3 linked regions of the Homo sapiens genome follow. The protein of the gene in region 3 purifies or fractionates together with the protein of the main gene of each other region. This does not show direct contact. Each region holds a gene or a part of one and is shown on either strand. Other genes may lie near its edges. The genes, in order: DNAJC16, MAN2A2 and ECEL1.

What was found.
Region 1: the proteins of ECEL1 (region 3) and DNAJC16 purify together in Homo sapiens (co-immunoprecipitation; 2 studies listed by BioGRID and IntAct, with this or other methods). This does not show direct contact.
Region 2: the proteins of ECEL1 (region 3) and MAN2A2 purify together in Homo sapiens (affinity purification with mass spectrometry; one large-scale study listed by BioGRID and IntAct). This does not show direct contact.

What each region holds. Positions count from the first base shown.
Region 1 is NC_000001.11:15,547,266-15,550,986, reverse strand, and holds part of DNAJC16 (dnaJ homolog subfamily C member 16 isoform 1 precursor), read right to left. Parts: intron 2,718-3,721; coding exon 2,559-2,717; intron 1-2,558. UniProt on the Homo sapiens protein: Plays an important role in regulating the size of autophagosomes during the formation process.
Region 2 is NC_000015.10:90,916,654-90,920,374, reverse strand, and holds part of MAN2A2 (alpha-mannosidase 2x), read right to left. Parts: coding exon of another isoform or gene 3,715-3,721; intron 2,182-3,714; coding exon 1,987-2,181; intron 1,731-1,986; coding exon 1,620-1,730; intron 741-1,619; coding exon 588-740; 3' UTR 1-587.
Region 3 is NC_000002.12:232,482,068-232,484,834, forward strand, and holds part of ECEL1 (endothelin-converting enzyme-like 1), read right to left. Parts: coding exon 2,734-2,767; intron 2,530-2,733; coding exon 2,405-2,529; intron 2,157-2,404; coding exon 1,934-2,156; intron 1,448-1,933; coding exon 1,349-1,447; intron 1,113-1,348; coding exon 1,038-1,112; intron 888-1,037; coding exon 784-887; intron 542-783; coding exon 483-541; intron 403-482; coding exon 351-402; intron 1-350. UniProt on the Homo sapiens protein: May contribute to the degradation of peptide hormones and be involved in the inactivation of neuronal peptides.

The sequences.
Region 1 (3,721 bases), on a different chromosome or scaffold from region 3:
GAGGCAGAAGAATTGCCTGAACCCGGGAGGCGGAGGTTGCAGTGAGCCGAGATCATGCCATTGCACTCCAGCCTGGGCGACAGAGTGAGATTCTGTCTCCAAAAACAAAAGAAAACAAAATACATGAAGTGAATCTAGTGGTTTGTTTTTGCTGCGAGTGATTGGGGGTGAAGCACACAATGATGGTAGGTGGCCTGGTGCCCTGCCTGGATTCATGCACTGGCACTGGCAGCTTCACCCACTACTGCTTTGGTACTATCAGTGTAAATGTCAACACAGTGAAAAAGGCAAATCGTGTCTTGATATGATCTCACAGACTTTCTCTTGAAGGATCTTTGAGAATCCCCAGGAGTCTATCAACCACATTCTGAAAACTGCTGTCCTAGAGAACTCTGTACTTAGGTTATGATATTCATTGCAACACTATTCCTCAAAGCCCCCAATGTCCACCAACGGAAGAATGATTCAATAAATTATAATGGCCATAAATACCATATAGCAATGACAACAAATTACCTAGAGCAACAGGAAACCACTGGTGCTACTAGTGATCATTAAGCCACCTGCTGTTGTGAAAACTGAGTTTGTTAAGCATACACTTGATATCCACAAAGAGCAAGCTGGTAAAGCAGCCATTCTACCAATAATTTTGTAAATGTATTTGATTTACAATTTTCCCCAGTGGGATAAATAAATATAATTCTCAGAACTATAAACTGTTCCGAAAGACCAATTTAGGAAATCCTCATCCATTTACCCTGGATTGAGATTATCTTCTCTTTTCTATTCGGACACTGGTATTTGTTTTCTTCCTGACTTGCAGCACCTTCTCGTCTCCATCAGGCACCCCCTTGTCTTGTGTGCCGGTGGCTGTTCTGAGTTTTGTCCTTGGCCTCCTTGGCCTTACTTTACATACAGCAGTCATCCCCTAACTGCAGAGGATACGTTCCAAGACCCCCAGTAGGTGCCTGAAACCACATAGTACTGAACTCTATACAAACTATGTTTTTTTCCTATACACATACCTATGATAAAGTTTATCAATTAGGCACAGCAAGAGATTAACAACAACAATATTTAAATAGAACAATTCTAACAATATACTGTAATAAAGTGATGTGAACATGGTCCCCCTCGCTCAAAACATCTTTTTTTTTTTTTTTTTTTTTGAGACGGAGTCTTGCTCTGTCGCCCAGGCTGGAGTGCAGTGGGCGGCGTGATCTCAGCTCACTGCAAGCTCCGCCTCCTGGGTTCACGCCATTCTCCTGCCCCAGCCTCCCGAGTAGCTGGGACTACAGGGGCCCACCACCACGCCCGGCTAATTTTTTGTATTTTTAGTAGAGACGGGGTTTCACCACGTTGGCCAGGATGGTCTCAATCTCCTGACCTCGTGATCTGCCCGCCTCGGCCTCCCAAAGTGCTGGGATTACAGGCGTGAGCCACCACGCCCGGCTTCAAAATATCTTCTTGCACTGTAGTCACCTATGTTTTGGACCTGGTTGACTGTGGGTAACTGAAACCTCAGAAACTGAAAAAGGGGTAAGTGGGGTGGATCAGGGGAGACTACGGTATTATGCCGGGAAGATCTTACCCTACTCAGGACTTCAACCACTAACCATTTACTGATGATACACCAGTTTCTATCCCCAGCCTGTATGCTTTTCTTAAGATCTCGATTCCTATACCCAACTGTAGAAAGGACTTCTCCCCTTCTATTTCCTACAGGCAGCTCTAATTCAGTATGTCCACAGCCAAAGTTCTTATCTTTCTAAACCTGCTCTTCTTTCTTTACGGTCCACTTTCCCATCTGGTTTCCATGGTTTCAGGTACCCTTCTGTGTTCACAGGACACCTGAGCTGCCATTAGAGTGGACTGCCTCTAGCAAGATAGTACTTGTTTCTCTATACCCTCAACAGTACTATTTTAACTTAGAAAATCTTTGACAGTTGGATGGGTGAAAAAAGGTTAATGTTCTCTGATTACTTGTGAGATTTAATTTTTAAAAATGGTTATTAGTCTTCTCAGAATTTTATGATTTTCTTGATTAAAAGCTCTTTAGAAATTAAAAATATCAACATTTTAATATTTGTTATAAATATTCCCCCAGTTTTTTAACTTTACATTTTAAAGTATTTACATAAAAACATAAAATTTAGAGTCAAGTTATCAAGATTTTCCAAGATTTTTCCCCAATGCTTTTTAACCCTTTCCTACCTTAAGATCAGATAAATATTCATCTGTACATTCTCTCAGTTAGTTTGTGGCTTCTTCTTATTCCTTTTTATTACTGTTTTACATTTAACTTTTAAATTCATTTTGGAAAAAGATTGTTGGTTTTCCAACAGGAGCCCTTTAAAGGTGCTAAAATTTTTAAACGTTTTAAATTAAAAATTTTAAAGCAAACGGTACCAAGTTAGATAAAAAAATTCATTAAAAAATTTTGTGCATCTGAAGGAAGATCCTTTCCTTCAGCCACTTTGTTCAATTTTGCTGTTTATTTACATAAAATCTTGGGATAAAATGTGAAGAAAATCTTAACCAAGGTGACCCTCACGTACCTGGATAACATCGGCAGGCCTGTTTATATGTTCTTTAAAGACCAAGAGGGTAGGGGCGTAGATATTGATGTTGTACCGCCTTGTCATCTCTTCCGTCCCTCTCAAACCCACATATACATATCCAAATGATAAATAATCTTTGTATGCAAAGGCAGTCAACTGTTAGGGCATAATAGAGAGGAAGAAAATAAAACTACAGCAAAGATGTAAATGACAAATCAAGTAGGGCTTTTTCACATCACTGAGCAGAGAGGTACATGCCAGCTTACACAGCTCCACTAGGTCTTCCGTATCCTTGTATACTTCCATTCTATGGTGTTCCATGTGCAAAAACTGTACCAACAAAGTAAATACAAACAACTCTCTTCTTTTTCATAGCTAAAGCAAAATAACGATCTTCTTGAAATCTGTACTGGTCAGGAGGCATGAGTTTGGGGATTACCTGTACCGTAATTAGGTAAGATGGCAGTGACCATGCCACTGATAACACCTTCCTCTCCGTCTCATGTCACAGTGACATGAGAGGTAGTGGGGAGTGTAGGTAGGCTGGGAGTGTAGTGGGGGAATCATTCACAGGGCAGGTCTGAAGTCAGTGGGAATCGCGCTCACCATGCTGTAGTGAGAACTTGGGTGGGTTATATGACTGCTCTAAGCCTCAGTATCTTGCTCTATGCAAACAGGGATAGTGGCCAGGCGTGGTGGCTCATGCCTTTAATCCCAGCACTTTGGGAGGCCGAGGTGGGCGGATCACTTGAGGTCAGGAGTGCAAGACCAGCCTGGCCAACATGGTGAAACCCCATCTCCACTAAAACACAAAAATTAGCCGAGCGTGGTGGTGTGTGCCTGCAGTCCCAGCTACTCTGGAGGCAGAGGTGAAAGAATTGCTTGAACCCGGTAGGCGGAGGTTGCAGTGAGTCTAGATCACACCACTGCACTCCAGCATGGGCAACAGAGTGAGACTTGGTCTCCGAAAAAAAAAAAAAAGCCCATCACAGTGGCTCATGCCTGTAATCCCAGCAATTTGGGAGGCTGAGGCAGGTGGGTCACAAGGTCAGGAGTTCGAGAGCAGCCTGGCCAACATGGTGAAACCCTGTCTCTACTAAAAATAGAAACGTTAGCTGGGCATGGTAGCACGCACATGTAGTCCCAGCTACTTGGGAGGC
Region 2 (3,721 bases), on a different chromosome or scaffold from region 3:
GCCATCACAGAAAGCAGCGAGGCCTTCAGACTCCTAGGAGAAACAGTGATTCCTTCTACTGCTCCATCCCCACTGCTAACTCTGGGTCCCCACCCCTGTCCTCCCAGAGTCACTCTGATCCTGCTCATCACACCAGGACATGGAGTCTCTACATAACCACAGGATTCCCCTAGAGCCTGCTGTTGCCACAGTGACCCTGATGCTGGGCTGTTACCCACTTAGCCTCCCTTACCTCTTCTGTCTGCTTCCACCACTTCTATATCCCTGTTTGGAAAAAGGATGGGTGCCTGAGCCTGTGCCCAGTTGGGTGTCCACTCACAACCCAAAGCAGAGCCTGGCACTGCCCACTCTGACCAAGGGCCTTCTCTCCCTGATCTCACTGGCGTCTGCCCTATTTACCCATCACTGGGTTTGTGGGTTGCGCCGAAAACACAGCAGCAGCAATAAACAGAAAATGAGGGCAGAGCCCAGTGTGTCACAGTTCTGGGAGGCAGATCGGGATGGGATACCCGTGTGGCTTGTCCAATGATCTTCATGTTAAGAGGCAGTCTCTGTGAATGAACTTTCTCTTCAGGCCACAAGAAGCCCTAACCCAAGCGGAGGCGAAAGGTAGCAATCTCCATGGGCTCCAAATAGACGTCAGTGCTGTTGGACGGGGAGGCCAGAGGGTACAGTAACGTCAAGGAGGTTGGCTGAAGGAATACCACATCCAGGCCATGGAAAAGGCTGCCCAGGGCTACCTGTGGAGAGCAGAGAAGGGGCAGGGTTGTGCTAGGTGCCGAGACACTAAAGAATGTGGCTGTTCATCTACAATTTGGTACCTCTTTAAGAATCTCAGCCAGGGGCAGTGGCTCACACCTGTAATCCCAGCACTTTGGGAGGCCAAGGCGGGTGGATCACCTGAGGTCAGGAGTTCGAGACCAGCCTGGCCAACATGGCGAAACCCCGTCTCTACTAACAATATAAAAATTAGCTGGGCGTGGGGGCAGGCGCCTGTAATCCCAGCTACTCGGGAGGCTGAGGCAGGAGGATCACTTGAACCAGGAGGCGGGGGTTGCAGTGAGCTGCGATCACGCCACTGCACTCCAGTTCCGGCTGGCCCCTCTCAGCAACACCATGCCTTCTTACACATGAGTGTGCATCCAGTCTCACGGGCTTGCTGAGATTTGCTCAACCCTAAAGCCTGCCTACAGATCTCTGGGTAAGAACCGTTCCACTGAGCTGTGAGCTCTGTGAAAACAGTGACCATGTCTTGGTTCACTTCTGAAACACTGGAGCCCAGCAGAGGACCTGGCACCCGGGGACATTTATCAGTGCCGGCTGATATGAGCTTACAAAGTAACAACAGGATGGGTTCTGGTTTTCTATTTCTGGTGTTTTCCACTTTGCTTGATAGAGGTCCCTGCTCAGGGAACAAAAGTTCTCAAGCGATCTACCTTGTCTGGAACTCCCCCTGCCAGGCCTCCGGAGCTCTGAAAACATGTCTACAGCTTCCCCCCTTCTCTCCAGAAAGCCCTGGAGTGACACTTTCTTCTCCCAGCCTGTCACCGAATCTCAGCCCAGTCTTACCAAGCTCATGCCTGCCATTCCTAGGTGCTCTGTTTCCCCACCCTACTCACCTTGCCTTGGCTTGTGGTGCAGTTGAAGCCCAAGTTCTTGGCCTCCAGGCCGCAGTCAAAACCCTTGCGGTGTAAGATGAGTGCGGTCTCCGCCGAGGGTAGGGTGTCCTCCTGGATGACAGACAGTGCCCAGGGAAGTGGGCGCAGGGCTTTCAGAGATCGGAGATGCAGCAGCGCCTCTGCCCAGAGGCAGTGCTGGCACAGGGAGGCGTGTGGGTAAGGAAAGGCCAAAACCTGGTCCTGGAGGTTTGGAGCCGAATACCTGCTAAGGGGTCTGGACCTCATCCTGGAGGCTAAGGAAGGAGCTGAGCAGGGAGGGACACCATCAGAACTCTGCTCTCAGCATGTCACGCTGAGGGACACTCACCTCAGCCTGGAGCGTACGTAGGTTGAGCAGGTGGAAGTCACAGGGCAGTGAGGAAGCCAGAGGATGAAATGAGCGCAGACCAGGGCCTGGGAGCTGCATCCTGGCTACAGGCAGAGCGAGCGCCGGGGCGTTCAGGTACATGGAGGTCAGGTGGCTGAGGAGGGATGGGTAGCTGGTAGAGTGGCTATCTTGGACCTGCAAAATTGACCCGAGATATTGGTGAGGGACCAAAGCCAGGCTGAGGGGAGAGGACGAGGCAGGATAAAAGCACACCCAGGTCAGTTGTTTTGGAAAGACCTTTCCTGGTGTGCCTGGACTCAAGGGCACGCCTGGCTCCAGGCGAGGTTCCGCTAACCCTTCAAGTGTGGACATTTGCCGTCTCCCCTAACGCAGAGGGCTACTTCACTAAGCTGTTTCTTCTCTACTTTTTAGTTCCTTGCTCACATAACACTATCATGAGCAACCCACTCCCATCAGCCATGTCTCCCCTCACACATGGATCCACAGTGCAGGGAGGATGGCAGCCAGGCAGACGCAGGCCTCACCATGGAGCACGGACCTCCAATCCAGAGTGCTCTGGGTAATCTGCGGCTTCACGAGCGATGCCACATCCACAGTGCCAGCCTGGCTCTCAGGCCCAGCGCGGCCGGGGCTCTGCCAGCAGGGCTACTCCTTAGCAGCTCACCTGGACGTCAGACTCACAGGCCTGGGCTGAATATTCTGGACTTCTGTCCCTGGCATCCCCCTTCTTCCAAGCGCCCAGCATCTCTCACTTCCCTCTGCATTCCCAGGTAATGCTAAACCCTCTTCCGTCGCACCTGGGCAGTGTCCTCATAGCCACCGGCAACTTCTCCAGCCTCTGGCCTAGTTCAAGCAGCCAGCATGTCCTGCCTGAACAGCCTCCCGCTGTCACCCTCCTCCAGTCTCCCTTCCCACAGATCCAACCTGCTCCGTACTGTCAGCGTGACATGCTGAGACCAGAGTTCTGACGGTGTCCCTCCTTGCTCAGCTCTTTCCTTAGCCTGGACCTTTCCTAGCCAGGATAAAGTCCAGATCCCTTAGCAGGCACTCAAGGTGCTCTGCCGTCTGCCCTGATCTCCCCCTAGCACTCTAGCCCAGCACCAGCCAAGAGGGCATTCTGCAAGGATGGAAATATCCGACACCACATGGTCTAATACGGCAGCCACTTAGCCACTTGAGTACTTGAAGTGTGGTCAGTAGGAATAAGAAAGCAAATTTTTTACTTGATTTAGTTGTAATTTAAATAGCCATATAGGGCTACTGGCCACCGTACTGGATAGCATAGCTCCAGCATAACTAAGGAACTCACTGCTATTCCCCAGCCTGTTGTCTTTCCTGCCTCCTATCCTGTGCCCTGGTTCATATCTTCAAATCACACCCCATTCATCAAAGCCACACCTGGGTGACACCTCCTTGACCTCGATCTCCTTAGCCCACATTATTACCTTGCTCCTCAGGATCAGTGAGACAAAGCCCTTTCTACCTTGCATTTTTACACACATGGCTTCTCTGCCACCCCTACTCACGAGTAAACTCCTGGGAGAGTCAGCACTGTCTGCACTTATGTCCCTCTGGGTCCTCACAGTAAAGCAGGTGCTCAATATCTATCTGATGCACGAGTGACTGAGTGGCGGGCTCTGTCACCTGGGCTCTGGCGCAGCTACACCTTGCTCGTACTAGTTCCCCGCTCCCAGAGCCGACCCTTACCTCTCGG
Region 3 (2,767 bases):
CAGAGCTGGCTGGGCAGTGAAACAGGGCTGGAGGAGACAGGAGGGAAACGGAGGCACCTACGTAGGGGTTTCTCCTCCTACCTCATCATTAGTGTTGCGCCACCTTTGAAACATCAAAATGAGCCTCAAACAAGTAAAGAAGACCCCAGGAAGTTACAAATAACAAACCTACACATTTTTCTAAATAACCAAGGATGTAGTGGGGAGCCAGGGTCCACAGCTGTCCTGACTCCTGAACCCAGCTGGGTCTGGGGCGATTGGAGCCACAGTACGCCGACACACACCTGGTAGACAAGGTCTGCAATGCCAGCCCTGCCCTCAGCCACAAACAGGGCAAGCTATGTACTCACTGTGGGAAGTCAGGGTCGTACAGGGTGGGCTGCAGGATGCCCGCGGGGAACACTACAAGAAGGGGGTGCTCAGTGGGAAACCCATCCACTTTCGGACCCTGCCCCGCCCGGCGTAGGGACACATCCCCTTACCCATCTGGTTCTTGTTGGGTAGATAGTAGGCATTGAGCGCCTGTGGGGGGAGCAGCCACCTGTGGAGGGATGCTGGGGTGAATGGGGGGAACACACTCCCTCCCCCGCTACCCTCACATCACAGCTTCCTCGTCAGCCATCTCCTGACAGTCTGGGGGTCACCCTGCCGGCCCCCACCCCATGCCCTGTGCTGGCGTGTGTGCCCCCCATATCTGCATGGCTGTGAGACGATTTGCCCTACCAGCTCCTGCCCTTTCCCCACAACCCTTCCCTGACCCCCAGCTCTGGGCCAGGCACCCACGTGGACTTGTCCACCTCCTGCCGAATCTTCTTAACTGAGAGCTGGATGCTGAAGCGGATGCTGTTCAAGATGTTCTTGAAGTAGGTCTTCTCATGGACCTCAAACTGCAGGAGGCACGGGCGACACTCAGCGGCAGGCCAGGGCAGGGCTACCTGCAGACTGGGCAACAACCTGGCCGTGCAGGCCACCTGCCCTCCTGAGTGCCGTTAGTAGAGGGGCTGTGGACAGGCTGGGCAGGCAGGGTCAGGGCCCACCTCATACTCCTTGTCCACAGCATCGGGTTTCAGCAGGAAGTCCGGGTAGCCGACCATCACCATCATGTACTGGAGCTGCGGGCCGAGGGCAGGTGAAGGTGGCACCAGGCCTCGGGAGACAGCCCCCCGCCCCCCACCCTACCCACCAAGGAAGGGAGCACTAGGCCAGCCTGGGAGTGGGCTTCACAGTGGGGGAGGCAGGCCTGGTCAACTCCACGAAGGCCTCTTTGTCCCTTTTGTTCTCTTTCGCTGGTACACAGTAGGTGCTCAATATATATGGGACCAACCAATGACACTGGGTCCCCCCTCACCTTGGCCCGAGCAGCAGCCCTGGTCTCGGCGTCCATCCAGTCCAGCTCCTCCAGGCGCTGGCCCAGGATGTACTTGATGTCTTCCACTAGCTGCTGCACCTGCAGGGTCAGGGGTCAGGGAGCAAGGGTCAACCCAGCAGCCTGGTCTATCACTCCTGGCAGGAGGGGTACCCCTGCCTTTAAGCACCACTTTCTAAGCCCAAACCTCATTTCTGAACACCAAGAGGATACTTTGGAGGTGAGGATCCAGGCCCTGCACCCCCGAGGGCTCACAAGATAGAGGAGGAAACTGCCCCAGCAATGACCACAGACATCCCTAAGGCCACGCCTCCCGAGCATGCCTGAGAAGGTGGGCTGGGGCCTGGCAGGGAGGTCTGCCTGCAGTTGATAGTCCACATAAGCTTCCTGGAGGAGGAGGCCTGTGGAGGAGCAGCCTGGGGCCTCAGAATCGGCTGAGTACTTAGCAGGGCCTGGTCCCCCTGCCTGCAGGGGACATGTGGGGCTCCCCATATTAGGACCATGGCCTCGGGAGGGCTCCACCCTCAGTTCAGCACCATCCTCCTCTCTCAAACAAGGGCAACCCACCTTGGCTTTGCTGGCAGCTGAGAAGTGCTCATGTACAAAGAGGGCGCCAAGCGCCATGCCAAAGTGGCGATTGGCCTGGCCCAAGCAGACCCGGGCCAGCTCCTGTGGCTTGTCGCTGCCCTCCATCTCCTGTGCCAGCTCGTGCAGTGCCTCACGGAATGGCGGGGACAGGTGTTCACTCAGGACCACCACCACGCGCCACACCAGGTAGTTGTGCAGGACCCTGGGGACCAGGTGAAGCCAGTGGGTGTCCAGACGGACATGCATGTGGGCCACCAAGGGCACCACCCCTACCTGTGCCCGCCAACCTGTGGCTGGACCCAGGACCCAGACAGCCCCACAAAGAAGGGACAGGGGGTCATCCCAGCTATGCAGAGCAGAAAATGTAAAGCCCACCCAGCAGAGAGGTCCAGGGTGCAGGGGAAGGACCTAGTGACCGCTGGGCAGAAAATGCCAGATCTGCAGCCATACCGGTGGGGTGTGGAGCGGATGAGCTGCGACACCTGCTGCATGTAGTCTGTCGCCAGCAGCACCACCTCCTCTTCCTCTGAGAAGTCCTCCTGGAAGATCTGGTCTAGCAGCCACTTCCACCGCAACTGTGAGACCAAGGACAGGGACAGTGAGGCTAGGGTTGGCAGGGGCCACAGAAGACAGGGAGGGGGCAGAGAGAGGCAGCGAGGGGACATGAGAGTCCATGGCCAAGGAACGGTTTGCCCATCTCTGGGGAGAGATGACCCTGTAGTCCCAGCAGCAGCATTGCCCTCAACCCTGCCTGCCCACGAGGACTGGGCCACACTCACGTGGGGGGTGATCTTCTGCAGCTGCCCCAGCGTC